2 separate regions of the Homo sapiens genome follow, and region 1 is linked to region 2. The links come from fine-mapping of genetic effects on gene expression. A gene starts in region 2. The other region holds a variant in brackets. All regions are shown on one strand. Distances are from middle to middle. Region 1 has its middle 25 kb from the start of LINC02403. Region 2 holds the start of ATP23 (ATP23 metallopeptidase and ATP synthase assembly factor homolog).

Region 1 (15,584 bases), 170 kb after region 2:
GCAACTATCAGGTTGCACATATATAATTGCCAATAGTTGACAGTTTTTACCTTAAAGAAGGCAATTTTGTATGGTCCAACTGAATATATACTATATTTCAATTCAATCTAATACTTTAACAAATATTAAGTTCCTGCTGAGGTACTATGTTAAGTGTTGAAGCTACAAGGATGAACAAAATAGTCATGGGTCTTGTCTTCACAAAGCTTACAGTCTAGAAGTGGTGGCAGACAAACCACTGCTTTGATAGCGGAAGGACAGTTACTGTGTGAATTCAGAGCGAGGGAAGCTAATCCATTTTAGAGTGGTCAAAAGAATCTTCCCAGAGGAATGAAAGCTAAGCTGAGCTTGAAGGATGAGGAAGAGTTAAATGGAAGAGTAGAACAGGGGCGAAGAGGCTTCTGGCAATAGGAACAGCAGTGTGAAGACAGGGAGGTAAGAGCAATAGAGCAGGGGTGTGTGACATGACGGGAGCTGAGCGACACTCAGAGTGGAGGGAGGCTGTGTAGACAGATGATGCTGGGAGGGAAGAAAGGCCCCATGGTGAAGAGAAGAATCTGGTAATTCTGTAATAAAATACTTACCTCTCTATTCTGAAGGCATCAAGGAACTACTGGACAAGGAGTGACGTGATCGTGACGGTGTTGTATAAAAAGGGCCATGTGGTTGCTGTGTGGAGCATAGGTTGGAATCTGGGAAGTCACCTAGGAGGCTGTTCCTGGAATCCAGGCAATAAAAGATGGTGGCCTGTACTGGGGCAGTGAGCATGGGGATGAAACATGGAAGACTCTGTGAGCTGCTTGGGAGGCAAATTGATGGGTCTTGGTGATTCCACGGTCGGTGGGGAGGGGGCAGGAATGGGTGACAGAGAGATGGGAAGGAAGATTGCTCTCTGAATGTAGAACTGCTTCTGGGTCACTGGAATTTTCAGTGGCCACAGTGGTTTGACTTCTTAAATGACTCAGTGGACTCCAGTATCACAACTTGCCACCAGGTGCTGCTCTCTAACATCTGAATTCTAGCTTTAAAACTCTCTAGGAGGTTTTGGGCTATGTAATAATTATTAGATTTTAGCTTTAACAATTCCAAAATGTGTGCATGGAATTTATTTAACATGGAGGAATACCAGCAGAGTTTTGTTACTTAAAATCTGATGATAAAAGTTTCATTTTATAGTTCAATCCTATGGACATTGTAAGACTTTGGTCTTTAACTCAGTTCCGTGTTCCGCTTAGAGATGGTGTGGATTTGAATCCAGTAAAGCTAGAAAAGGGGTGAAACTGGTTCATTATTAGAAGACTGATTCTTTTTTTTTTTTTGAGTTTTTACACAGCCTCTTTTGTATTCAATGTTGTTTATTGAGGAGTGAATGAGAGACTACTGCCAGACATGCCAATGACACTTCACATTCAAGAGCTGGAAGCTGGAAAGCTTCCCGACTAAGTCACTGTATAAGCCTTCTGGGAAAAAGAACCAAAGTGCCATCAAATATGCCATCTTCATGCTTGTTGTCTGTCATCAGTTTGTTTCAACTTTTGGGTCCACTGGTTTGCTGGGTAGTAGGAGAAGACTGATTCTTCAAAAAAAAAAAGGGCCTGGATTTTCATTTGACAGACATCAGCTCAATTAGATCAGTGCTTTCAAGATGGCTCTTTCCTCTAGACTAGGAGGAAATGTGAAGAGAACACTTATTTATTGAGTACCTATTTTTTTCACATACTTTAAATTTTAATTTAGTCCCCACACCAACCTTTTGAGGTAGATCTTTGTATCTCTATGTTATAGAAGAAGAAATCTAGGGCAAGGCAGATTAATTGACGTGCCCAAGGTTACATAGCTGCCAAATAACACAACTGAGGCTTGATTTTAAAGCATACTTTTGCCTTCCACTTTATGGTGTCATCTCTGTCATGTCTCATACCCACAGTATGCCATCATGCCCATCATGCACAGATGCATGATTAAAATAAAAGCTCTTTGATATCCAACTTCAAGTTCATTTAACTGTCTTCTAACACATTCGTTTAATCAGCTATGGTAGCAATCTTATTTAAGTAAGGTTAGTAGATTCATGTTGATAATGAACTTGATAAATGAGTTGGTAAAAGGATACTGTTGCAACTGAAGACATTTTTGAAGTGGTTATTTGTATGTTTTAATGGATAAAAAGTAATTGTTACTATAGGATCCTTTTTGGGGCCTCAGTGCTCAGGGCAGATGGAATCCTGTCAATCAAACTTTCAGATAATAACAATTTAGCCACCAGAGATAAAGGAGCAATGCCCATATTGATATATAGTAGTTTATAGGGCCACTGAACAGAAGCTATTATGGCTGCTTGTAGGACCACCGAGTGGGAAAGCCTGCCATGTTGCTGTTATGGCAGATATGATTATCTGGAGGCTGTCTGCAAGGAGAATCCACCTGTAAGTAATTCAGAAGCTATCATATTCTATCAAGGAAAAAAAAATGTGGCTGGAGTCATTTGGGCCTCTTGAACAAAGAGGTCAGAACATGGTCACCCATTTTCAATTTCTTAGCATAGACTGTAATAAAGTCCACATGATTAGAAAAAGATGATGTAGCAAAATTAAGTCAGACAGAAGAGGCTTCAAGAAAAAGAGTATTAGAGATGAAGAGGGTTTCTACATAACAATAAAGTTTCGATTCACCAGGGAGATATAAAAACTTAAACTGATATACACTAATATCATTTTAAAATACATAAAACAAAAGTTGACAGAACTGTAAAGAGACAACCATGCCAGACATATCTGGTAGGTGAGTGGGAGATTTTAATCTAGTTTTCTCAGTAATTAATACAGCAGTTAAAAAATCAAAAAGGATATAGAAAATTTTAATAACACTAATTGTGTTATTGGTCCAACAGACATTCACAGATCACTGCACCAGCAGTCTTAGGAAATTTTGGAACATACTTTATGTAATTTATGGATTAAAGCAAAAATTATAGTGAAAAACAAAATATTGAGCAATAATGAATATACAACAAATAATTTATAAGATGCATCAAAACAACGCTTTGAAGAAAATGGACAGCCATGAATGTATATATTAAAAAAAGAAGAAAGGCTAAAAATTAAAGAACTAAGCATGCAACTTAAGACATTAGAAAAATAGTAGCAAAACAAATTTCTTCAACAAGGAGGAAGATTATAATAAAGATAGCATATATTAATGAAAAAGTAAATAAAGATACCACAGAAAGACTCAAGAAAGATAACTGTTGTATTTTTGAAAAGATTAATAAAATTAACAGTCTTCCTCTGGGAAGAACAATCAAAAAAGGAGAGAAGGCACAAATAGAAGTTGCTTGGGTGAACAAAACAGCATAACCATAGGTGATGTGGAAATTAAAAAAGAAAGTTTAAGAACATAATGAACAACATTTTGCCTATAGATTTTTTTTAGCCAAAATGGATCCTTTTTTGTTTGCTTGTTTCTTGTTTTTGTTTTGGAGAAAAATAATTTGTTGACTCATGTAACTGGATGTACAAGAATGGACTTAAGACACAGCTGAATTCAGGGACTTATGTCATTATATCTGCTCCTTTCTCCTTCTCTTGACTCCACTTAAATTTTATTTTTTTTTATTCAGGGAAAATATCCATATGCAATTTGTCATCTTTACCATTTCAAAGTGTACTGTTCAGTGATAGTAAATACATTTATAATCTTTTTTTCCCTTATCATCTTCCCCCTTCCCCTTCCGGGCCTCTAGTAACCACCAATCTCTAATTCCAGGAGATTCACTTTTTTAGCTTGCACGTATGAGTGAGAACATACAATATGTGTTTTTCTGTGCTTGGCTTATTTCATTTAATATGATGACCTCCAGTTCCATCCATGTTGCTGCAAATGACAGAATTTCATTTTTTATGGCTAAATAATATTCCATTGTGTGTGTGCGTGTGTGTAGGTACATATACACACATACATATGTACATATACATACATTTTCTTTATCCATTCATTTATTGATGATCACTTAGGTTGATTCCATATTTTGGCTATTTGTGAATAGTGCTGCAATAAACATGAGAATGAGATATCTCTTTGATATATTTTTCTTTCTTTCTTTCTTTTTTTTTTTTTTTGAGATGGAGTCTTGCTCTGTTGCCCAGGCTGGAGTGCAATGGCGCGGTCTGGGCTCACTGCAACCTCCGCCTCCTGGGTTCAAGTGATTCTCCTGCCTCGGCCTCCTGAGTAGCTGGGATTACAGGTGCCCGCCACCACACCCAGCTAATTTTTGTATTTTCTTTTTTTTTTTTTTTTATACTTTAAGTTTTAGGGTACATGTGCACATTGTGCAGGTTAGTTACATATGTATACATGTACCATGCTGGTGCACTGCACCCACTAACTCATCATCTAGCATTAGGTATATCTCCCAATGCTATCCCTCCCCCCTCCCCCCACCCCACAACAGTCCCCAGAGTGTAATATTCCCCTTCACATGTGTCCATGTGATCTCATTGTTCAATTCCCACCTATGAGTGAGAATATGCCGTGTTTGGTTTTTTGTTCTTGCAATAGTTTACTGAGAATGATGATTTCCAGTTTCATCCATGTCCCTACAAAGGACATGAACTCATCATTTTTTATGGCTGCATAGTATTCCATGGTGTATATGTGCCACATTTTCTTAATCCAGTCTATCATTGTTGGACATTTGGGTTGGTTCCAAGTCTTTACTATTGTGAATAATGCCGCAATAAACATATGTGTGCATGTGTCTTAAACATATGTGTGCATGTGTCTTTATAGCAGCATGATTTATAGTCCTTTGGGTATATACCCAGTAATGGGATGGCTGGGTCAAATGGTATTTCCAGTTCTAGATCCCTGAGGAATCGCCACACTGACTTCCACAATGGTTGAACTAGTTTACAGTCCCACCAACAGTGTAAAAGTGTTCCTATTTCTCCACATCCTCTCCAGCACCTGTTGTTTCCTGACTTTTTAATGATTGCCATTCTAACTGGTGTGAGATGGTATCCCATTGTGGTTTTGATTTGCATTTCTCTGATGGCCAGTGATGATGAGCATTTTTTCATGTGTTTTTTGGCTGCATAAATGTCTTCTTTTGAGAAGTGTCTGTTCATGTCCTTCGCCCACTTTTTGATGGGGTTGTTTGTTTTTTTCTTGTAAATTTGTTTGAGTTCATTGTAGATTCTGGATATTAGCCCTTTGTCAGATGAGTAGGTTGCGAAAATTTTCTCCCATTTTGTAGGTTGCCTGTTCACTCTGATGGTAGTTTCTTTTGCTGTGCAGAAGCTCTTTAGTTTAATTAGATCCCATTTGTCAATTTTGTCTTTTGTTGCCATTGCTTTTGGTGTTTTAGACATGAAGTCCTTGCCCACGCCTATGTCCTGAATGGTAATGCCTAGGTTTTCTTCTAGGGTTTTTATGGTTTTAGGTCTAACGTTTAAGTCTTTAATCCATCTTGAATTGATTTTTGTATAAGGTGTAAGGAAGGGATCCAGTTTCAACTTTCTACATATGGCTAGCCAGTTTTTCCAGCACCATTTATTAAATAGGGAATCCTTTCCCCATTGCTTGTTTTTCTCAGGTTTGTCAAAGATCAGATAGTTGTAGATATGCGGCGTTATTTCTGAGGGCTCTGTTCTGTTCCATTGATCTATATCTCTGTTTTGGTACCAGTACCATTCTGTTTTGGTTACTGTAGCCTTGTAGTATAGTTTGAAGTCAGGTAGTGTGATGCCTCCGGCTTTGTTCTTTTGGCTTAGGATTGACTTGGCGATGCGGGCTCTTTTTTGGTTCCATATGAACTTTAAAGTAGTTTTTTCCAATTCTGTGAAGAAAGTCATTGGTAGCTTGATGGGGATGGCATTGAATCTGTAAATTACCTTGGGCAGTATGGCCATTTTCACAATATTGATTCTTCCTACCCATGAGCATGGAATGTTCTTCCATTTGTTTGTACCCTCTTTTATTTCCTTGAGCAGTGGTTTGTAGTTGTCCTTGAAGAGGTCCTTCACATCCCTTGTAAGTTGGATTCCTAGGTATTTTATTCTCTTTGAAGCAATTGTGAATGGGAGTTCACTCATGATTTGGCTCTCTGTCTGTTGTTGGTGTATAAGAATGCTTGTGATTTTTGTACATTGATTTTGTATCCTGAGACTTTGCTGAAGTTGCTTATCAGCTTAATGAGATTTTGGGCTGAGACAATGGGGTTTTCTAGATATACAATCATGTCATCTGCAAACAGGGACAATTTGACTTCCTTTTTTCCTAATTGAATACCCTTTATTTCCTTCTCCTGCCTAATTGCCCTGGCCAGAACTTCCAACCCTATGTTGAATAGGAGTGGTGAGAGAGGGCATCCCTGTCTTGTGCCAGTTTTCAAAGGGAATGCTTCCAGTTTTTGCCCATTCAGTATGATATTGGCTGTGGGTTTGTCATAGATAGCTCTTATTATTTTGAAATACGTCCCATCAATACCTAATTTATTGAGAGTTTTTAGCATGAAGGGTTGTTGAATTTTGTCAAAGGCTTTTTCTGCATCCATTGAGATAATCATGTGGTTTTTGTCTTTGGCTCTGTTTATAAGCTGGATTACATTTATTGATTTGTGTATATTGAACCAGCCTTGCATCCCAGGGATGAAGCCCACTTGATCATGGTCGATAAGCTTTTTGATGTGCTGCTGGATTCATGTTGCCAGTATTTTATTGAGGATTTTTGCATCAATGTTCATCAAGGATATTGGTCTAAAATTCTCTTTTTTGGTTGTGTCTCTGCCTGGCTTTGGTATCAGAATGATGCTGGCCTCATAAAATGAGTTAGGGAGGATTCCCTCTTTTTCTATTGATTGGAATAGTTTCAGAAGGAATGGTACCAGTTCCTCCTTGTACCTCTGGTAGAATTCGGCTGTGAATCCATCTGGTCCTGTACTCTTTTTGGTTGGTAAGCTATTGATTATTGCCACAACTTCAGCTCCTGTTATTGGTCTATTCAGAGACTCAACTTCATCCTGGTTTAGTTTTGGGAGAGTGTATGTGTCAAGGAATTTATCCATTTCTTCTAGATTTTCTAGTTTATTTGCGTAGAGGTGTTTGTAGTATTCTCTGATGGTAGTTTATATTTCTGTGGGATTGGTGGTGATATCCCCTTTATAATTTTTTATTGCATCTATTTGATTCTTCTCTCTTTTTTTCTTTATTAGTCTTGCTAGCGGTCTATCAATTTTGTTGATCCTTTCAAAAAACGAGCTCCTGGATTCATTAATTTTTGGAAGGGTTTTTTGTGTCTCTATTTCCTTCAGTTCTGCTCTGATTTTAGTTATTTCTTGCCTTCTGCTAGCTGTTGAATGTGTTTGCTCTTGCTTTTCTAGTTCTTTTAATTGTGATGTTAGGGTGTCAATTTTGGATCTTTCCTGATTTCTCTTGTGGGCATTTAGTGCTATAAATTTCCCTCTACACACTGCTTTGAATGTGTCCCAGAGATTCTGGTATGTTGTGTCTTTGTTCTCGTTGGTTTCAAAGAACATCTTTATTTCTGCCTTCATTTTGTTATGTACCCAGTAGTCATTCAGGAGCAGGTTGTTCAGTTTCCATGTAGTTGAGCAGTTTTGAGTGAGATTCTTAATCCTGAGTTCTAGTTTGATTGCACTGTGGTCTGAGAGATAGTTTGTTATAATTTCTGTTCTTTTACATTTGCTGAGGAGAGCTTTACTTCCCAGTATGTGGTCAATTTTGGAATAGGTGTGGTGTGGTGCTGAAAAAAATGTATATTCTGTTGATTTGGGGTGGAGAGTTCTGTAGATGTCTATTAGGTCCGCTTGGTGCAGAGCTGAGTTCAATTCCTGGGTATCCTTGTTGACTTTCTGTCTCGTTGATCTATCTAATGTTGACAGTGGGGTGTTAAAGTCTCCCATTATTAATGTGTGGGAGTCTAAGTCTCTTTGTAGGTCACTGAGGACTTGCTTTATGAATCTGGGTGCTCCTGTATTGGGTGCATATATATTTAGGATAGTTAGCTCTTCTTGTTGAATTGATCCCTTTACCATTATGTAATGGCCTTCTTTGTCTCTTTTGATCTTTGTTGGTTGAAAGTCTGTTTTATCAGAGACTAGGATTGCAACCCCTGCCTTTTTTTGTTTTCCATTGGCTTGGTAGATCTTCCTCCATCCTTTTATTTTGAGCCTATGTGTGTCTCTGCAC[G/A]TGAGATGGGTTTCCTGAATACAGCACACTGATGGATCTTGACTCTTTATCCAATTTCCCAGTCTGTGTCTTTTAATTGGAGCATTTAGTCCATGTACATTTAAAGTTAATATTGTTATGTGTAAATTTGATCCTGTCATTATGATGTTAGCTGGTTATTTTGCTCGTTAGTTGATGCAGTTTCTTCCTAGTCTCGATGGTCTTTACATTTTGGCATGATTTTGCAGCGGCTGGTACCGGTTGTTCCTTTCCATGTTTAGTGCTTCCTTCAGGAGCTCCTATAAGGCATGCCTGGTGGTGACAAAATCTCTCAGTATTTGCTTGTCTGTAAAGGATTTTATTTCTCCTTTACTTTTGAAGCTTAGTTTGGCTGGATATGAAATTCTGGGTTGAAAATTCTTTTCTTTAAGAATGTTGAATATTGGCCCCCCCTCTCTTCTGGCTTGTAGGGTGTCTGCCGAGAGATCCGCTGTTATTCTGATGGGCTTTCCTTTGAGGGTAACCCGACCTTTCTCTCTGGCTGCCCTTAACATTTTTTCCTTCATTTCACCTTTGGTGAATCTGACAATTATGTGTCTTGGAGTTGCTCTTCTCGAGGAGTATCTTTGTGGCGTTCTCTGTATTTCCTGAATCTGAACGTTGGCCTGCCTTGCTAGATTGGGGAAGTTCTCCTGGATAATATCCTGCAGAGTGTTTTCCAACTTGGTTCCATTCTCTGCATCACTTTCAGGTACACCAATCAGACGTAGATTTGGTCTTTTCACATAGTCCCATATTTCTTGGAGGCTTTGCTCATTTCTTTTTATTCTTTTTTCTCTAAACTTCCCTTCTCGCTTCATTTCATTCATTTCATCTTCCATCACTGATACCCTTTCTTCCAGTTGATCGCATCGGCTCCTGAGGCTTCTGCATTCTTCACGTAATTCTTGAGCCTTGGTTTTCAGCTCCGTCAGCTCCTTTAAGCACTTCTCTGTATTGGTTATTCTAGTTATACATTCTTCTAAATTTTTTTCAATGTTTTCAACTTCTTTGCCTTTGGTTTGAATGTCTTCCCGTAGCTCAGAGTAATTTGATCGTCTGAAGCCTTCTTCTCTCAACTCATCAAAGTCATTCTCCATCCAGGTTTGTTCCATTGCTGGTGAGGAACTGCATTCCTTTGGAGGAGGAGAGGTGCTCTGCTTTTTGGAGTTTCCACTTTTTCTGTTCTGTTTTTTCCCCATCTTTGTGGTTTTATCTACTTTTGTTCTTTGATGATGGTGATGTACAGATGGGTTTTTGGTGTGGATGTCCTTTCTGTTTGTTAGTTTTCCTTCTAACAGAGAGGACCCTCAGCTGCAGGTCTGTTGGAATAACCTGCCGTGTGAGGTGTCAGTGTGCCCCTGCTAGGGGGTGCCTCCCAGTTAGGCTTCCTGGGTGTCAGGGGTCAGGGACCCACTTGAGGAGGCAGTCTGCCCGTTCTCAGATCTCCAGCTGCGTGCTGGGAGAACCACTGCTCTCTTCAAAGCTGTCAGACAGGGACATTTAAGTCTGCAGAGATTACTGCTGTCTTTTTGTTTGTCTGTGCCCTGCCCCCAGAGGTGGAGCCTACAGAGGCAGGCAGGCCTCCTTGAGCTGTGGTGGGCTCCACCCAGTTCGAGCTTCCAGGCTGCTTTGTTTACCTAAGCAAGCCTGGGCAATGGCGGGCACCCCTCCGCCAGCCTCGCTGCTGCCTTGCAGTTTGATCTCAGACTGCTGTGCTAGCAATCAGCGAGACTCCGTGGGCGTAGGACCCTCCGAGCCATGTGCGGGATATAATCTCCTGGTGTGCCGTTTTTTAAGCCCGTCAGAAAAGCGCAGTATTTGGGTGGGAGTGACCCGATTTTCCAGGTGCCGTCTGTCACCCCTTTCTTTGACTCAGAAAGGGAGCTCGCTGACCCCTTGCGCTTCCCAAGTGAGGCAATGCCTCGCCCTGCTTTGGCTCGCACATGGTGCACGCACCCACTGACCTGCACCCACTGTCTGGCACTCCCTAATGAGATGAACCCGGTACCTCAGATGGAAATGCAGAAATCACCCGTCTTCTGCGTCGCTCACGCTGGGAGCTGTAGACCGGAGCTGTTCCTATTCGGCCATCTTGGCTCCTCCCCACTAATTTTTGTATTTTCAGTAGAGATGGGGCTTCACTATGTTGGCCAGGCTGGTCTCAAGTTGCTGACCTCGTGATCTGCCCGCATTGGCCTCCTAAAGTGTTGGGATTACAGGTGTGAGCCACCGTGCCCGGCATTAATTTTCTTTATTTTGAATATATTCCCAGTAGTGAAATTGCTGGATCATCACATGAAAGTTCTACTTTTAGCTTTTTTGAGAAACCTCCATACTGTTCTCCATATTGGTTGCATGAATTTACATTCCCACCAATAGTGTGTGAGGGTTCCTCTTTTTCCACATCCTTACCAGCATCTATTCCCTGTCTTTTTGATACAAGGCATTTTAAGTAGAGTGAGGTGATATCCTGTTATGGTTTTGATTTGAATTTTCGTAACGATTAAAGGTGTTGAGTATTTTTTTCATATACTGTTGGCCATTTGTATGTCTTCTTTTGAGAAATGTTCAGATCTTTTGACCACTTTTTGATTGAATTATTTGTTTTGTTTTGCTTTTTGCTATTGAGACAAAGGTAATTAGCTGGCACAATATGTAAGGATGGATTGTTAAAAAATTCTGTTTAAAAGACAAAAATGTACACTATTACCACTTCTATTCAACTTTATATCTTGTCTAGTCTAGCAGGCCAGAAAAGAGAAATAAAAAGTATAAAAATTTGAGAAGATATAGAAAGATTAGAACTATTTTTAAATGCTATAACTTAACTTCCAAGGGTCTGTAGACAAATTATTAGACTTAATAAGAGTTTTACAAGGTTGCTTGATATGACTATTATACAAAAATCGAATACACTTCCATACATCAACAATGAATAGTTAAAAAACAAAATTTTAACACTTAGCATTTATAATAGTTTAGAAAATAAAAGGTACCTAGGTAAAAATCTCATCAAAGATGTGTGAAATCTTTATAGAAAAAATCATGAAACTTTATTGAAAGACATTTAAAAATGAGCAGCCATATCGTTTTCAAAGACAAGAAGACTCAATATCATTAAGAAGTAATCTATCTCCAAATTAGTCAATAGATTTAATAAAATTTCAGTAAAAAAGGAAAGGTGTTTTTGTGAATCTTGAAAAACTTACTCTAAAATAGAAATTGAGAAGCAAAGAACCAAGAACAGCTAATATATTCCTGAAGAACATGAGGTTGGGGAACTGATTGTACTATAATATTGTAGATGATGTGACATTGGTGCATGGGTAGACAATAGGACAATGCAACAGAATAGAGAGTCCAGAAACAGACACATCTATGTAAGGAGAGATATAATAAAAAATATGTATTTCAGATCAGTGGTGAAAAATGAACCACTCAGTGGGAAATGCTGTCTTTATGGGAAACAGTGCATTACTACTCTTACCATACACAAAATCAGTTAAGGACCTAAATGTTAAAGATGAAAGTTTAAAACTTTTGGAAAAAAATATTGGAGAATATTTTTATTTCCTCAGGGTTGGAAAGGTTTTTAAAAACAAGACACAGAGAGCATGTACATAAAGGAAATGACTGATAAATTAAACTATACATTACAAATAACTTCTGTTCATTAAAAAGCACACAAATAGGATGAAAAGGTAAGACACAACTTAAGAGAAGATAATTTCAACTCTACGTAACTGGGCAAAGGTTTTTTTTGCAGTTCATACAGAGTTCCTAAAATCAATAAGAAAAATATGGCTCAAGTCATTCAATGATTTTTGAAGTGTCCGTGGCAGACCCCTATAGATAAATACTAGTGTAGGCCTTTAGGGTTTTGAAACAAAGCTCTGCCATCCTCTTCCAATAACCAGTCTTCTTTTGAGAAACACCTGGCTTGCTAGTGGGCCTTAGTAGAAATTAAACATTGACCATGGATCACTGAGTTACTATGTGATGTGAAGTACCCACCATGAACACTATGAGGAAGTTGCTGTGATTCTGCTGCTGTTCCCGTTATTTGTTTCCTGGTAAGCATGGTCCTGTGTTTTTTTTTTTTTTTTCTTTCCATCATGGCAGCTTAGTAGAAGCCTCAAAACCTCTTCTCTAACTTTATGAGTGTTGAGAAGCAGGATGTGGTGGCTCAGACAGTATCAGAGGATTCCTTGAAGCCAGCAGTAGAGGTGGTGGCTACCCAGTTTCCCACTTCCTGATCATGCGGATTGTAGCTCCTTTGGTGGATCAGTTTTGTCCCATTGTTCAGGGAGTTGTTCCTGGAAGTTTAGTGTGTCAATTCAGGTCGGCTGAGAAGCAGATGTCAAGATGGAAATTTCTCCCAATAAATGTGAGAGATTTATGGAGGAAAATGCCTGTGAAGAATAAAGCCAGGAGGGAGCAGGAGTGGGCAGGGAGATGAGGCTCTGACATCACCCATAAAATGAGAGGGGAAGGAAGGAGGGTTGAGCAGGAAGAGACCTGGATTGCAGTGCAGCTCTGAGAAAAGTCTCGGCTAGGCTGATGGACAGTACCCAAGCACAGCCTGCTTGTCAGAGGGGTCCTGCACTGGGCAGGAGGAGCCTGGCTCTAGAACTCCCACTGTACTAACTACTCCCTGACTTGGGGTCACCAGTTTGGAGCAGGCTGTGTAAGGCGTGGCCTCGTCTGGATGCTGGGGTAGGTGCTGAAAGTGGCAACTGCCAGCCAACTGATCTCAGGGCAGGTTCTTTCTCGAAGAGAGATCTGAGCAGCACAGTCCCAGGGTTTTCTAACTCAGCCTGGAGCCTTCTTCTTCTGTTTTTCTAATGATTTTTTGTTTTTAGAGCATCGAAATTCTGTTTCAAATCACTCACCTTAAACTAGCTTGTACAGTTTCTGTTACTGGTGGTTGAACCCTGACTACTATAACCCCTAAGCTCAGCAGAGTATCTGATGTATTGTAGAGGATCAATAATATTTCTTTTATTAATTAATTTAAGCAGAATGGCTAAAGGTCTTTTAAGAACAAAATATATATTTTTTATTATACTTTAAGTTCTGGGATACATATGCAGAACGTGCAGGTTTGTTACATAGGTATACACGTGCCATGGTGGTTTGCTGCATCCATCAACCCATCATTTACATTAGGTATTTCTCCTAATGCTATCCCCTCCCCTAGCCCCCCACCCCCCGACAGGCCCTGGTGTGTCATGTTCCCCTCCCTGTGTCCATGTGTTCTCATTGAAGAACAGGATATTTAGCATTTAATTGCTGGTTGTTTGCATTGCTGCAAATAATCCTTTTAGCAAATTCTGATAGACCCATAGAACCATATTTAGGGGTGATGTGGCTGCCACCATTCATCAGTCTGCTGACGCTTATGTTGGGGTAGCAGGAGGGGTTGTGGTCCAGGAGTTCCAGGCTGTGGTTGGTAGTGAATGAATTATTCCTGATGCAGAGAAGCAGCTACAACTTGAATTGCTTGCAGGAGCTGATGAAAGGAAAAATATAGTGCAGGGAGGTCACCTTAGAATGGGTGGGTAGGTGGCAGGTGGAGGCTGGTATATGGGTTTACATGCAAAGCAATGAATTCCATATATATCTTTATAGTTCTTCCTCAGATTTAAACATCAGCCATCAGAGCCACCTCCTTTTCTCTCTCTTGCTGCCATCTCAAGTTCTTTATTAAAGCTAATCATCTCTCTTAAATGGAAGGATTAAGGCAATCACCCTAATTCAGTCTACGCTCAGGAAGGCTCATTGTGTTTATAAAATCTTAGCTGTTTTCTGATAACTATGTTTACCAAACTTTGAACTCTACCACCAAATTCCCCCAAAATATTGAATATAATGAAGAAAAATATTTTTGTAAGAGGTTGATGTCAACAGTTTTGCAGAAAAATTCTTGGGCAAAGGGGAAACACGCAACATATCAAGACTTCTAAAATTAAAATTCGTCAGCACTTCTCTAAAAAAGCTCACCTTTTTGGTGGGAAGAGCTTCAGGGAAACACACTTAACTTACTGAGACTTCTAAAATCAAAATTTAGTCAGCACTTCCCTAAAAACACTCACTTTTTTTTTGCTGAGAAGAACTGCAGGACACTTAGGTGGAGGTGGCAATTTGTCCAGGTAATAAACACGTTAAGAACAAGAGCAGCAATCAAAGTTTTTTCTCAACCATATCTCAGGCTAATGGAGCCGAGTGCTTTCTGGTTGGGCATTTTTCATTCTGCATCTGGAACCACCCAGGCTGATGAAAGAAACTGATCTATAGTAGTATTTAGTTTTGCCAAGCAGTGTTTAATATTCCAAATGAAAAGCTGTGGAATCTCACTTGAAAAGGAGGACAAATTTAAACCAGTGTCTAATTCTCAGCCTTCTTTTTTCATTTCATCATGGTGACCTGGTACTCCCTGCTGTCTAGTGCTTTGGTTCATTATTTTGTCTGTACAGGAACTGCACCTGCCATACAAAAGCACTTAATTTAAGCATTTGGGAAGATGCCATTAATAGACTTAAAGAAAAATGTTATATATATATAATATATGTACGTATATTTAGACCCACTGATAATTTATTTAATATTTTAAAAACATTTATTTAAAAATAACAATTCTTTAATATCATAACACATCTAATAAATTATATATAATAAATTTTAAAATTTATTAGCTATGATATTAACGAATTGATAAAGATATCTAAAAAGGATATCTAATAAATTTTAAAATTTATTTATTAAAGAATTGTTGTCTTACTCTTTGTTTAAATAGTGTTACTCTTTGCTTGAGTCAGGATGTCATTAAGTTTCACACATTGTGATTGATTGATGTGCATTTAAGCCTTTTTTAATCTACAGGCTCTCCCCATTCCTATGCCTCTCTGTCTCAATGTCTCCTCTTGCAGTTTTATTGGTTGAAGAAATGAGGTCATTTGTTCTGCAGAGTTTCTTACAGTCTGGATCTTGCTGACTGCATCTCTGTGATGCCTTTTAGCATGTTCCTCAGTTCTTTGTATTTCTCATGAATTAGTAGTTGGATGCAGGCTTGATCAGATTCATAGTTGCCTTTTGGCAAGACTCCTTCCTAGACAGTGCTCTGTGTTCCCATCAGGAAGTACATGATGTCTAGTTGTCGTGTGTGTGTGTGTGATGGAAGCAACTACAGACTACAGGGGAGATCACTGACTAGACAGATTATTAATTCAAAATAAAAAGCTGCTGACTTTTTATTTTGAAATAAATATAAACTCATAGGAAGTTGGAAAAATAGTATAGAGTCACATGTACCCTTCACCTACCTTCCCTTATCTATGTAAAGAACATGTAACCCTA
Region 2 (15,584 bases):
CCACTCTATGTTTATTATTCTTGTTTTATGCTTTGTTATATAATACAATTTCCTTTTATGAATTCTATTTTCTTGTTTTTTTTTTCATGTTTTTTTTTCTCTCAATGAATTTTGGAGTAATTCTGTTTAGTCCCAAACAAGCAAACAACAAAAACAAGCTCTTAAAATACTTTTGGGATTAATATTGGAATTTTACCAAATTTGCAGATTAACTTAGTGAGACTGTAGAATACTTTTAGAGTACCTTATAGAGTTACATTTAAAATAAGACAGAGAAAAAAAGAAATGTTGATTTAATGATGTATACTTCTATATTAGAATATTTTGAGCTGTCAATGACAAAAATCCAGGTAAAACCCAAGGTTAAGTATAAAAGAGAGTTTATTGGCTCATTCAACGGATAAGTCCAGTGGTAAAACTAGTTTTCAGGCATGTCTGGATCTCTGGGTTCAAACAATGTCATCAGGACTTGGTCTCTCTGTCTTCCAGCTTAGCTTCTTTAGCTTCAATATCAGACAAACCTCCATGTGGTTGCAAAGGTGGCCTGTCTGCTCTGTGTCTGTATGTTCTTTAGCACCTGCAATATAACATCAGAGGGAGAGTTTTTTTTTTTTTTTTTTTTTTTTTTTTTTTAATAGTGCCAGCAGGCCAGGTGCGGTGGCTCACGCCTGTAATCCCAGCACTTTGGGAGGCTGAGGTGGGTGGTTCACCTGAGGTTGGGAGTTCGAGACCAGCCTGACCAACATGGATTAACCCTGTCTTTACTAAAAAAAAAAATTAGCTGGATGTGGTGGTGCATGCCTGTAATCTCAGCTACTTGGGAGGCTGAGGCAGGAGAATCATTTGAACCTGGGAGGTGGAGGTTGTGGTGAGCCGAGATTGTGGTGAGCCAAGATTGCGCCATTGCACTCCAGCCTGGGCAACAAGAGCGAAACTCCATCTCAAAAAAAATATATATATATAAATAAATAGTACCAGCAAAAGTACCAATGATGGTTCTCATTGGTCAGGTCTGAATCAAGTGTAGGAATGGGGGCAGTGTGGGCAGTTGGGAATCAGCCTCACTTGAACCAGCTAAGGCTGGTGAGTGGTGGTTTCCTGAAAGGGATGTGGAGCAACCGAAAAATCAGGAATTATACACCATAATACCTATTTATGTATTTATTTATTAGATGGAGTCTCGCTCTGTTGTCCAGGTGGGAGTGCAGAGGTGCGATCTCGGCTCACTGCAACCTCTGCTTCCTGGGTTCAAGTGATTCTCCTGCCTCAGCCTCCTGAGTAGCTGGGATTACAAGCGCCCATCACCACACTCAGCTAATTTTTATATTTTTAGTAGAGACAGGGTTTCACCATGTTGGCTAGGCTGGTCTTGAACTCCTGACCTTAGGTGATCTGGCTGCCTTGGCCTCCCAAAGTGCTGGGATTATAGGTGTGAGCCACCACGCCCTGCTGATAATACCTGTTTATAAAAAGAGGATTTAAAAGCAACATTAGGAAATATTACTAAGTTGAAGTTCTAATACTATTTTTTAGATTATGAAGTTATTTTAGGGCTAAAGGTGAAAAGAAACCAGGCCATTGGGCAAGAAAACATGATGATAGACATTAAAAAGTTACTTGTAATTGAACAATATTTGTTAGAATTATAATGCTTATTCTTGATGTTACTCTTCCTCCATTTCTTGATCTCATCACTGCTTAGATTCTCCAAAATCTTGCTTCATAAATTTGTCCTGTTTTGCAGCTTAATCTTGTCTTTTATTTTTTTCCCCTGCTCCTAAGGAACCCCATTCCCCACCTCCCTAAACAAATCAACAAGCCTTTCAATTCTACTGCTTTTTATACCTCCTCTTCTTATATTCATTGGCCAATTGTTTAAAGTCATCAGTGATTTCCTTAATCATCAAATCCAATGAACTTGGACCCTCCTTGATGGCTTGCTGTCTCTGTAGTATTTGACAATATTGACAGAACTTTCCTTCTTGAAACCCGGAATCTTAGTTCCTATGAAACCCACTCTCCTGATGTTTCTCTTAGCTTTCTGATGACTTTTTCTCTGTTTACTTTGTTGGTTTTTCTTCTTCACCTTCTTTATATGTGGGTGATTCTCAAGGTTCTGGCTTCAAACTGTTTCACTATTCACTCTTTTTTTTTTTTTTTTGGCAGTTTCAAATACTTTCAAAAGAAGGGTATACACTTTTTTTTTTTTTTTTTTTTTTGAGACAAGAGTCTCACTCTGCTGCCCGGGCTGGAGGGCAGTGGCTGCCTCCCCTGCTCAAGTGATTCTCTTGCTTCAGCCTCCCATGTAGCTGGGATTACAGGTGTGCGCCACCACACCCGGCTAATTTTTGTATTTTTGGTAGAGACGGGGTTTTGTCATGTTGGCCAGGCTGGTCTCAAACTCCTGACCTCAAGTGATCCACGTACCTCAGCCTCCCAAAGTGCTGGGATTACAGGTGTGAGCCACCACACCCAGCCTACATCTTCTATTTAACTGCTTCTGATCAGTTCCTCTCCCAACACCTGTGTGATCTAATCCTAACTGTCCACTATCTAGAAAGACAGAGCTTAACTTCTTAACTTCTTCTAAAAAGATCTTTCCCTTCTGAATCCCATGGTACTTTTTTTTTTTTAATGGCACTACTTTAAAACTTGCATTAGCTCCTTATGTGTTAAGACTTGTCTTACTTTCTGGCCTATAAAGTCGCTTTTCCTTTTTCTTTTTTTTTTTTTTTAAGGAGATGGGGCCCCTGCTCTATAAACTTCTTTAAGAAGATTTTCTTCTTTTTAAACTTTTATTTTAGGTTTGGGGGTACACATGAAGGTTTGTTGTAAAGATTATTTCATCACCCACGTATTAAGCCTAGTACCCAATAGTTATTTTTTCTGCTCCTCTGCATGCTCCCACCCTCCACCCTCAAGCAGACCCCAGTGTTTCTTGTTCCCTTAAGATTTTCTAATTCAACTCTGCATCTCCTATACTGTAAAGCACAGTGTTTTGTATTTTTTCATTTGTTTTTTCAACATACATAAGCACTGACTATGTATTGTGCTAGGAGCTGGGTAAGTGGTTAAAAAAAACCCCGTGCTTTCTGCCCTCAGACAGTTTAGAGTCTCGTGAAAATACATATTGTGATATATAATCAATAAAACTTTATTGAAAGAATGAATCTTACATCTTAAACTCCTTTTTCATCTTCTTTCCCCAAACTCCTGACCTACATTCCTGCGCCCTTTCCCCTGATAAATCCCACAGATTTCTCAAATCCAGCAGCTGAATTGGATTCATGTGCTATGGATACACATAAATAAGTTTGCCCCATGTTCAAGAAACTCACAATAAAGCACCTTCTCTCCCCAAACCTTCTGCTGATTTTAGTATCAATGTTACTAACTCCTTCTTATTACCAAGGGGAAATCTTGGTATTCTTTTTGACTTCTTCCTCTTTTTCATATTTAATTCTTTAATTCAAGCAATTATCCCTCTTGTTGAGGTCCTTTCACCTATAGCAGAGGTTGAAAATTAGTGACCCACAAATTGTATCTAGCTAGTAGAGGTGTTTTGTTTTGTATAATATTATCAAAAATATGATTTTCCTGTTTCTCCTGAAAAATCAGGCAACACTGAGTCCTTATTTTTGCAAGAATTGGCTGGAGTTTTAGATGGGACAGCTCAATCAACTCTAACATTCCAATCTCTATCACTCCTTGCTTTTGTCACATTCAGTCCATTTCCTCACTTATGAAACTTTCTTAGTCCCTAATTTAGGCATCTGAGTTTGCCGTCTCTGGCCTATATGATCATAGACTGTCAGTAGTGGAAGAGATATTAAAAGATCAACTCGTCTAACAGTCTCCTGCTTCCTCTCCCCACTCTTTAAGAGACGGAGAAATGAGGTCTAAAGAGCTTACATTACCCAATCAATTTCATACAGCTAATGTGTAACAGGATTCTATAATATGCCATTAGGCCTCCTCCCTCATACGGATCATGTTAAACTTATATTTTCCCTTTGGTTTAATTGCTAGGAACCTCAGAGCCCAATTTGTGGCACCCCTCTAGTAAATACACGGACCTTTTGGTATGAAGTTTTGGGGTATTAATATACCCCTGGCTTTATTTTGTTTTCCAATTACCTTTACCTCAGTTTCTCTTCATCATTTTCTCCTATTATAGTGTGTATTTTTTTTCCCCAAGCATACTCAATCTTTTGTGAAAGAGGTACATCCGTACAGGCGTAAACTGTCGGGCTGTATTGTCTGGCTCCCAATTTCTTTCTTTCACTGTCATTCTGCTTTGGCTACTCACATTCTCTGTTTTCCTTGACAGCCAAACTTCTTGAAAGAATTGTCTTCACATGCTGTGTCCACTTCATCCTGTCTTTTCAATTCACTGTAAACAGATTTAAAGCCTTCAATGCCTTCTTTGTTGCTATGATATTAATACCAAAATTATATTGTATTCATCCATATATGAAGGACACAAAATGGTTTTCCCTAAATTATCTCAACTATGAAAAAATATGCAGAGAAAAAAATTAATAGGTAATGCATGAAAATGTTACTTCTGGGTAGCTGGATGACTGGTGAGATTTATTTTCTTTTAAAAATTTTCCACAGTTTTAAAAACAAGCGCATTAGAACACATCCCGATGTAAATTAGAAATTCTCAACTTACATTTTCTAAAAGGAGGCAGAAAACTAGAGAAGCGACAGTGAGGAGCCACTGGGCCACACTTCATTTCACCTTAAGACTGACTCAGAGAAAAACAAGAGGGTACGACTCAGATCCCCGGGGCCAGCAGCAGGGCCGCGGGGCACGACTGGATAACCGCTTGTGAAGAAAATTTTAAGAGAGCCCTCACGACCCTTTAGCGCATCCTAAAAGACCTCTGAATATCTCTGCCTCTCCCGCTAACGGCTCCAAACCGCAGATAACGGTCAATCGCCTCCGGTTGTCCTGGTAACAGCCAGCAACCACAACCCTGCCTGCGTAACTCCTCCCAGAACACCGTGCGTCTTATCGCTTCACTTCCGGGTTCGGAGGGCCGACTTCTTCCGGAAGTATCTGCCTGCCAGTCACCTGGCGTTTTCTGGCTGTGTGGCTTTACTAGACAGAATGTGGCGTATTGTTGGGCAGGGCCCTGAGGACCCTTTTGTTGTTTCCCCCCCGTTTAACAGGACTGGAAAGCTAAGCAAAGGCTTTACTCTCACGGAATTGGATGAATTGGACGTTAGTTTTTAAAAAGCCGAAGGGTACATGTTAGCTTTATTTAACCATTCCACAATGTATATATATTTCAAAACATGTTTTATACTATAAATATAATTTTTATTTGTCAACTAAAAAACAGCATTAAGTGTTAAAAGCTGTTAAGTCAGAATATAGAGATGAATCTTTGAAATTAGAATGCTTTATTTGGGAAGAAAATAGTAATTTGGGGCATATATGTAGACTGGGGTGGTCTTCGGGATGTCTGAAGAGTGAAGAGGTTAGAGACTTTATAAGAAGGAGAAATGTTACGTATTGGTCTCCAAGAGAGTTTATTGGCACTATTAATGTTTTGGTGGGGTTGGCAAACTGATTGCTGAGTGACGGTGGTGGGTAAAATTAGTCTTAGAATTGTAGCAGACTGTCTTAGTAGCCTTTAGATTAAATTGGTTTTAAGTGTTAGCAGGCAGTTTCAGCAGCCAGGCCTGTAGAGAATTATATTTTTCAAGTGATATTTGTGACCTGAATGTTTTTTCCCTCTGGCCTCTCCACTCTTTAACTGGTATGACAAAAGTGACCCGATTTATATGATCAACTTTCACAGCTGACAGGTGGTAAACTCTTTACAATTATATGTAATTTATTTGTTACTGTGATAGATTTATACAATTTTAAATAATTTAGTTCCCATTAAAAAAGCAATTATTTTTGCTTTAGAAAATGAAGGCCAAAAAAACCCCCAAAACACAAAACCTCCAAATCCTACCCATTTAAGGACAACCAATGTGAATACTTTGTAGGAGTCTTCCAGACCCTTTCTATGAATTATAGTAAGTACAAATTCAAAATGGAATCATACTGTATATGCTAGTTTGGAACTTAAAAAACTTTTTTTTTTTTGAGACAAAGTTACTGTGTTGCCCAGGCTGCAGTGTAGTGGCCCGATCTCGGCTTACTGCAACCTCTCCACCACCTGGGCTCAAGCAATTCTCCTGCCTCAGTCTCCTGAGTAGCTTGGGATTATAGGCGGCGCCACCACACCCAGCTAATTTTTGTATTTTTAGTAGAGATGAGGTTTCACCATGTTGGTCAGGCTGGTCTCGAACTCCTCATCCCAAGTGATCTGCCTTCCTCGGTCTCCCAAAGTGCTGGGATTACAGGCATGAGCCACCCGCGCCCAGCCTGAATTTTTTTTTTTTTTGAGCTGTTGTCTTGCTCTGTCGCCCAGGCTGGAGTGCAGTGGCGCGATCCCAGCTCACTGAGGCAGGAGAATTGCTTGAACCCAGGAGGCAGAGGTTGCAGTGAGCCGGGATGGCGCCACTGCACTCCAGCCTGGGCGACAGAGCAAGACTCTGGCTCAAAAAACAAAAAAACAAAAAAACAAAACAAAACACCCAAAAACTTTTAATGAACATATTTTGTTTAAAAAAGACACTTAACATGGTTGTATATATTCCATTATACCTCTTGTTGGATATTTAAACAATTGATGTCTTCCCCTGCCGCCCCTTTTTTTTGAGGAGGAGGTGTCTTGCTGTATCACACAGGCTGGTCTTGAACTTCTGGGCTCAGGCAGTCCTCCTGCCTTAGCCTCCCAAATAGCTATGATTACATGCCACTGGCCTGGCCATTTTTGCTCTCAATTAGTGCTGCAATGGAGAAATGAAAATCCTTATAGCTAAATCTTTGCCCTTGCTCTAATTTCTTTGTGGTAATTCTTTTTCTTTTTAAAACTCATTTGTATTTGCTGTTCATTATCTCTTCCTTAATGTGTTTTTATTCCATACCTATGTCTTTATACTGTATACAGATGAAGTTACACATGGCATCCAAAGCCCACTTGATTTTTTAAAGTTTATTTTTCTGATTATAAAGGTAATACATGCTTATTGAGGAACATTAGAAAATTTCAGGAGAATGTAACAAAAAAATTCCAATACCTAGACAACCATTGATACTGTGGTATGAATTTTTTTCCATCTGTTTCTTCAACAATGAGTATTGAAACAGTTTTAGCTAATTTAGTAAGGAAATGTTGCAGCTTTTGGTTTGTACGTTTTTACTTATTCCTGTAGCTGAAGGGTATTGCAAATAGTATCCAGAAATAAAGCCACATACCTACAACCAACTGATCTTAGACAATGACAACAAAAACATATAATGGGAAAAGACACTCTATTTAATAAATGGTGCTACACAAAGTGGATAGACATGCAGAGGAATGAAACTGCACCCCTTTCTTTCACCATATACCAAAATTAACTCAAGATGAATTAGAGTTAAATTTAAGACCTGAAACAATAAAAACCCTAGAAGAAAACCTAGGAAAAACTCTTGTGGAGATTGACCTAGGCAAATAATTTATGAGCAAGTCCTCAAAAGCAAATGCAACAAAAACAAAAACAGACAAATGAGTTTCATTAAGCTAAAAAGCTTCTGCATAGTAAGATAAAGAATCAAATAACCTACAGAATGGAAGAACATATTTACAAACTGTGCATCCAACAAAGGACTAATATCCAGAATCTACAAGGAACTCAACCAGAAAAAACTAAATAACCCTATTCAAAAGTGGGCAAAAGACAGGAATAGACATTTCTCAAAAGAAGACATACAAGTGGCTAATAAACATGATAAACTTCTCAACATCACTAATCATCAGAGAAATGCAGATTAAAACCACGGTGAGATACCATCTTGCACCAGTCAGAATGACTATTATTAAAAAGTCAAAAAACAACCCGATATTGATGAGAATTCAGAAAAAAGAGATTGCCTATACACTGTTGGTGGGAATGTAAATTAGTACAACCTCTGTGGAAACTAGTATGGAGATTTCTCAAAGAACTAAAAATAGAACTACCATTTGACCCAGCAATCTCACTACTGGCTACCCAAAGGAAAACAAATTGTGACTGGGTGTGGTGGCTCATGCTTGTAATCCTAGAGCTTTGGGAGGCTGAGGCAGGAGGATCACTTGATGCCAGGAGTTTGAGACCAGCCTGAGCAATATAGCAAAAAACCTCCATCTCTACAAAAAATTAAAAAGTTAACCAGACATGATGGTGCATGCCAGTAGTTCTAGCTACTCGAGAGACTGAGGTGGTAGGATTGCTTAAGCCCAAGAATTCAAGGCTGTGGTGAGCTATGATTACGCCACTGCACTCCAGCCTGGGTGACAGAGCAAGAACCTGTCTCTGAAAAAGAAAAAAAAAAGAAGAAATTGTTATGACAAAAAGACAAAGACATAGAATCAACCATTAACCTAAGTGTCCACCAACAGATGGTTAAAGAAAATGTGGTTATGCATACACCACGGAATACTATGCAGCCATAAAAATAATGAAATCATGTCTTTTGCAGCAACATGGATGGAGCTGGGGGCCATTATCCTAAGTGAAATAACTCAGAAGCAGAAAATCAAACACCCCATGTTCTCACTTATAAGTGGAAGCTAAAGACTGAGTGCACGTGGACATACAGAGGGGAATAATAGACACTGGGGACTCCAAAAGTGGGGAGAGTGGGAGGGGAAGGGTGAGGGTTGAAAAATTAACTATTGGGTACAATGTTCACTGTTTGGGTGATGGGTACACTAGAAGCCCAGACCTCACCACTACACAATATATCTGTATAATAAACCTACACATAAACCACCTGAATCTATGTATTAAAAAAGAAAGCATGAAAAAAATCCAAATAGTATTTCAAATGTATATAGGCTATGGTCCATTTCTAGGCATATCTAGCCTGCCTTCAGTATTCCAAACTAATCACACTGAATTGTAATGGCTTAGTTTTCCATATGTGTGTTTTAGTTCAATAACTGGATTGAAAGCTAGTTGTGTGGTCCTAGATAAATTATTGAATTTTGCTGAGCCCACTTTATCTGCAAATTAGAGATAATACTTACTTTGCAGGGTTGTAGTGAGGATTGGAAATAATGTATCCAAGGTGAATTTAATTAAAAAGTAGTTACTTTTTTTTTGACTTCTGGCTTTAATAGTCTATGTACATAGGAGTTGTTTGTATTTTTATAATATTCCAGATGAATGACTATCCTAGCATCCCACTCAATTTAGATATTGAGCATCTATGACACATAAAGCACTGTTCATAACCCTAAAGGCCTGCTGAGCCTATATTTTTCAGATATGTTTCTTACATAAACCACATGCTGCTCTTCATCTTTAGCAATTTTCTTAGTCATGTGTTTCCTCAGTCTCTTACACCTTGCCTGGCCCATCATAGTAGGTGCTGAATAAATGTGTGAGCTGAGTGGAATAATTTAGTAGGAAAAGAGAAACACACAAATTGGATAAAACCTGGCAGGCTACGATGAAAATGATTAACAGGTACAAAGTGCTTTGTACATTGGGAGATCAGGAGACATTAATTTTGATTAAGGTATCTGGGAATGCCCTGTGGAGTAGGCAGATTTGACCTGGGCCCCAATCATAGGGGCTGAGGCAAGGAGCTTAAAGATGGAAATGACAGTATGAGTTAAGGCTGAGAGGTAGAAGTAAACAGGGTGCGCTTTGTTATCAGGGAGTTATTGGTGGGGGGTGGGGCAGAAGAGTAGGGTAAACGAATGGGTACAGGTGGGAAGAAAAAATGTAGTTGGTTCCTACATTTTGAGGATTTTGATGTGACTAGTCATTCTTTATAGTTTTAAAACGTTTCTGAAAAACACTGCTTTCAATATGGCCAGAGGCATCTTTGGGCAGAGTGGATCTGAGGGATGGCAGGGGTCGGGAAAGTGGCGGGCCAGAAATGACAACTGGCTTGCCCCGGAAGAAGGCAGGGAGTGGGAGGATGGCCGAGACCTTCGGCGGCACAAGAGCAGTTAGTGGCCAATATTCGCCCCGAGGTGAGGAAGGAGTGTCTGCGAGGAGGCGGGACACCCTTAGAGCTCAGCAGGCAGCAGGAAGCTGCAGAACAACGCTTATAAAGACATGTCACCCACACTGGGAGGGCAGCAGCGAAATCCGCGGCAGCCGGGTTGTTACAGCCTTTGAGGGAAGTCGCAAGACCCAGCTCCGCCCAACAGCATCGGGCCCCGCGCCCCGCCCCATGCCCTCGCCCCGCCCCTCATCCCTCGCCCCGCCCCTCGCCTCTCGCCCCGCCCCTCGCCTCTCGCCCCGCCTCCCGCGCTCCCCGTCAGGTTCAAAGCCCCCTCCCGCCTAACGTCTTCAGCCCAGCCAGGCTGCCCTTCTTCCCTGCGGAGGGAGGGCCTGGGCGGTCGCGTTGGCGGGAGGGAGGTTACCTTTCCCAGTCTCGCTCTGGCCGCCTGAGCCAGGAGGAAGCAGCGGCGAGGTCTGCGGGAGGCATGGCGGGAGCTCCGGACGAGCGCCGGCGGGGCCCCGCGGCAGGGGAGCAGCTGCAGCAGCAACACGTCTCTTGCCAGGTCTTCCCCGAGCGTCTGGCCCAGGGGAATCCCCAGCAAGGGTTCTTCTCCAGCTTCTTCACCAGCAACCAGAAGTGCCAGCTTAGGCTCCTGAAGACGCTGGAGACAAGTAGGAGCCATGACCTGGAGGCTGTGGTTCCACAGAATGGGTCTGAGACCGGGTGGGCGAGGAAGGGCCTGGGCAACACCTGGCCAGGGGCTTCAGGTTCAGCACAGAGTCTAGACAGACTGGGCATCATGGGGGCTGGGTTGGGAGCCTGAGGCTCAGTTTCCCCACTAGAGGTGGCGCTGAGACCCTTTTCGTCGCTGTTTTTGGCTTGTGGAATGAATTTGTCTGCCCTTTTTTGTCACTCACTGTTGTGACAGATCCTCCGATTTCTTACATAAGTTATGCAGCCACACTGTGACTTCAGGGTAAGGGTGAGGCCAAGTTTTAAAGTGCCAGCCAGGTTAATTAAGGCACACAAAGGCTGTAAAAATGTAAAAATGTAATTAAGGCATACCAAGGCTGTAAAAATATAAAAGCAGTTTTGCAAACCTACCGTTCCTTGGAAGTGGTTCATGCATGAATGGGCTTCAGAGCGTAGAAATCCCTGAAATGGTCTGTGAAATCGTGTGTATGTGTGTGTGTGTGCCCCTAAGTGCATTTTTTTTTTTTTTTTGAGACGGAGTCTCGCTCTGTCGCCCAGGCTGGGGTGCAGTGGCGCGATCTTTGCTCACTGCAAGCTCCGCCTACTGGGTTCACGCCGTTCTCCTGCCTCAGCCTCCCGAGTAGCTGGGACTACAGGCGCTCGCCACCACACCCTGCTAATTTTTTGTATTTTTAGTAGAGACGGGTTTTCACCGTGTTAGCCAGGATGGTCTTGATCTCCTGACCTCGTGATCTGCCTGCCTCGGCCTCCCAAAGTGCTGGGATTACAGGCGTGAGTCACTGCGCCCGGCCCAAAGTGTATTTTTTTTTGGTCGGGGGAGAGAGTTAATAGCTTCATCATATTCTCAAAGAGGCCAACGACCCCACAAAGGTTAAGAACTGCTGTGGGTTAAACAGGGACACAACTGCCCATTGACAAATTTCTCTCCCGTCCCAGAGACATTGCACTAGAGAAGATTTCTTAATTCCTTTACATTGACATAGACTTCTTAAGTTTACTTTCAGATACATTCAGAAAATTAGTCTTAAACATACTTGTCCCAAAGCAAGGTTACTATTTCATAGCTAGTCAGTCACAGTTCAAAAGTCAACCACCGAAAGATTTTCCAACCTTCTTGGGATTACCTGCTTGTAGAGACTCAGGGAGGTAGGAGGAGGAAGGGGAGTTGAGGGTAAAAGGGGAGAGAATGATGATATTGTATTTACTGTACAAATATGTATTGAGTGCCTCCCAGGTTCTGGTGGGGGAAGTAGAAAGATGAGTTAGCACCCTGCCTTGAAGGTGCTTCAAAGTGGAATAGAGTGGAAAGAGTATGGGTTGCAGAGTTAGATGTGGGTTCAAATGCGGATCCCTTTCCTCAGGTGTGGAAGGTGACTTAACTTCTCTGATCCTCACTATCCTTATTGTAAAAAAAGAGAAGGGGAAAATACCTTTTTTAGGGTTGTTGTGAAGAATAGATTTTATGGGGCTGGGTACGGTGGCTCATGCCTGTAATCTCAGCACTTTGGGGAGCCAAGGCAGGGGGATTGCTTGAGCTCAGATGTTTAAGACCAGCCTGGGTAATATAGGGAGACCCTGTCTCTACAAAAAATAAAAAAAATTAGCTGGATGTGGTGGCTCATGCCTGCAGTCCCAACTATTTAGGAGGCTGAGGCAGGAGATTTGCTTGAACCCAGGAGGCTGAGGCTGCAGTGAGCTGTTATTGCATCACTGCACTCCAGCCTGGGCAACAGAGCGAGACCCTGTCTAAAAAAAAAAAAAGTACTGATTTTATGAATGTAAAGTACCAGCATATCAGGAGCTGAGCTGAATAAATGGTAGCTGTTTTTACAGTGGAAGGGCCACACAGTGGAGGAAGAGTGGAAATAGATAGGATGTGAGGAAGGTGGGGTGCTGAACATGAGCCCCAGTAGGAATCAATGGACCTTGATCTTCCAAGGGCAGGGTGGCTGGGAGGGTCTTTTGGTGGTATTAAAGTGTCAACCTGCAGCTTTAAAATGCTATCCCTGGGTGGGGCGTGGTGGTGGAAACCAGACCTCATGGGAGTCTCTTTTTTTTTTTTTTTTTTCACCAAAGCAATTTTATTCTAAATATTGCTGCAGGTCCTTTTTGAAGTACTAAACCATGGTTTTTTTTTTTTTTAAGTACAAGGACTACAGACTTTTGAAACTGTTTTAATTTTGTAAAATTCTCCTAGTTGCATGAATAATAATGTGCTTAATATGGTGCCTGCTACCTGGTATTCACTCAATAATACGTATTGTTAACAATAATTATTCTACTGTGAACACTCTTGCAAGGGGCAGGTTGGTAAAGCAGTAACCTATACCTGACTTTCTCATCTCACATTTCTTTTTCTCACCTATTTTTGCCTTCAACATTTTTTTTAAACCTTAGTTTCTTTTTCACTTTTTTTGGGTTACATCATATAATTGGCTGTGCATTTATATTCTCAGACAAGATGCCTATGTGAAAAGTTAATATCAGAGGCATTTGGGCTCCTTGTACTTTCCTGTAGTAGTCACGGGCCCATAGAGTCTTAGATGTGGAAGGGCCCTCAGGAATCGTCTAGGCCTCCCCGTCCCCTTACAGGGAAACCTCTGTGCTATTGCTGGCCAGATACTCTACAGACCTCTCCTGGAATACAGTTACCTGTTCCTTGAGGCTCTTTCAATCTACTGTCTATTGTTTCACCAGCTTTAATTGTTGGAGAAAAATCCTTTCTCATACTGAGCTGAAATCTGCCACATGTAACTTCCATACTTTGGTCCTTGTTCTGCCCTTTGAAGAAATATTAACTGAATCTAGTCCCACATGGCACCCCTTCAATACTTGAAAGTAGTGTGGTCCTAGTTAAGTCTTCTGTCTCCTTTCCAACCCCCCAAATCCTTTCTTGCTTCTTACTGGAAATAGTCTGTAGTACCCTAGTCACCATCCCCTGTGGAAGAGCTTCAGTGGCAGGTCCAATTTAGAAGGTGGTAGTACTCAGCATGGGACATGGTATTGCCGGTATGATCTGATCAGGACAGAACAGTGTGGCTACTGGCTTCCTCAAATCTAGGTACTGTGCTGTTGTTCACTTCTAAGAATGTGGCCCTAGATTCCCTCAGTCTTTTGGTATATACCGTAATACAACGTGTTTGATCATTTAACTAAAAATGAACTTTAAAAGCATAGTTGATATTGTCTAAGATGCTTAGTAGTACCATCTTGGTATTTGTATTAGTGTTTTATTTCAGTACAAACTTGCTTTGATGTTGATTTAAGCTTGGCCTCTCATGTCAATTTTTACCAATTTTAAGATAACATTACTTTTTTTTTGAGACAGAGTCACTCTATCGTCCAGGCTGGAGTGCAGTGGTGTGATCTCAGCTCACTGTAATGTCTGTCTCCTGGGTTCAAGTGATTCTCATGCCTCAGCTTCCCAAGTAGCTGGGACTACAGGCGTGTGCCACCATGCCCAGCTAATTTTTGTATTTTTAGTAGAGACGGGGTTTGCCATGTTGGTCAGGCTGGGCTTGAACTCCTGGCCTCAAATGATCCACCCGCCTCAACCTCCTAAAGTGCTGGGATTACAGGCATGAGCCACTGCATCTGGCCTGTGAGTTACTTTTTGATAATATCTTACACTGCTATTTGGGTAGTTTAATTGGTGCTACTTTTCCAATTACTTAATTAAATCAATATCTTTTTTAGATCCATATGTCAAACTTCTGCTTGATGCTATGAAACACTCAGGTTGGTAAGTAACTCTTTTTGAAGTGCTGCTCTGAGGTCTGGCTGCTGAAAACAAAAACCAAGTTCTCTTCTTAAGAGAACTGCTTAAGATTTCTCTGAGGTCACAAAGTCTTTTCCATAGGGTAAATAGAGGTAATTGGCTGCATTGTCTCCGGGCTGGCCTTGTTCTCTTTGGACATTTTCTGCCCTAACTCATGTTTTTTTTTTTTTTTGGGGATAGAGTCTCGCTCTTGTTGTCCAGGTGGGAGTGCGTTGGTGCTGTCTCGGCTCAGTGCAACCTCCGTCTCCCAGGTTCAAGCAATTCTTCTCCCTCAGTCTCCCAAGTAGCTGGGTTTACAGGCGCACGCCACCATGCCCGGCTAATTTTTGTATTTTTAGTAGAAATGGGGTCTTAGCATGTTGACCAGACTGGTCTCGAACTCCTGTCCTCAAGTGATCCACCCACCTCGGCCTCCCAAAGTGCTGGGATTACAGGTGTGAGCCACTGCGCCAGCCCAGCTCATTTTCTAGTTCTTACCATTCACCTTGGGTGATTAATAAAGACAGTACTCAAAATTTTCTTGTAAGTAATTACCAAGCCTGGCCTTTCTGCTACACCAGCCTGAGCACTGTTTTTAATGGAAAAGAAATCTCAGCTTGTTATGTAGGAACCTTGCAGATGTTGTATAACTTTGAGGGGTTTAAAGGAAGTGACTTCTGACATCCACTTCTTAACATTCTGGCCCAAGGGCAGGAACTCCAGCATACTTGCAATATGGCCATAATCAGTTGAACAAATTTTTTTTTTTTTTTTTTTTTTTTGAGACGTAGTTTTGCTCTTTTTTTTTGCCCAGGCTGGAATGCAGTGGCACGATCTCGGCTCACCGCAACCTCCGCCTCCCGGGTTCAAGAGATTCTCCTGCCTCAGCCTCCTGAGTAGCTGGGATTATAGGCGCCCACCACCACCCGGCTAATTTTGTATTTTTAGTAGAGATGGGGGGTTCTCCATGTTGGTCAGGCTGGTCTTGAACTCCCGACCTCAGGTGATCCACCTGCCTCGGCCTCCCAAAGTGCTGGGATTACAGGCGTGAGCCAC

The links.
Region 1: its variant is fine-mapped to the expression of ATP23 in monocytes after LPS (Kim-Hellmuth 2017, PIP 0.92).

Annotation. Positions count from the first base shown.
Region 1 is chr12:58,104,978-58,120,561 of GRCh38, forward strand. No RefSeq gene overlaps it. Among named protein-coding and RNA genes, the nearest start is that of LINC02403, 25 kb to the left of the region's middle. The variant G/A (reference allele first, on the strand shown) is at 8,208.
Region 2 is chr12:57,931,161-57,946,744 of GRCh38, forward strand. ATP23 (ATP23 metallopeptidase and ATP synthase assembly factor homolog) reads left to right here and starts at 10,407. Exons shown (of 6, transcript NM_033276.4): 1 at 10,407-10,728; 2 at 14,468-14,513. The coding sequence starts at 10,542. It overlaps GIHCG (GIHCG inhibitor of miR-200b/200a/429 expression), which reads right to left and starts at 5,004. Exons shown (of 3, transcript NR_038269.1): 1 at 4,679-5,004; 2 at 4,310-4,393; 3 at 289-577. RefSeq lists enhancers at 4,429-4,929, 4,930-5,430, 10,276-11,085, 11,542-11,711.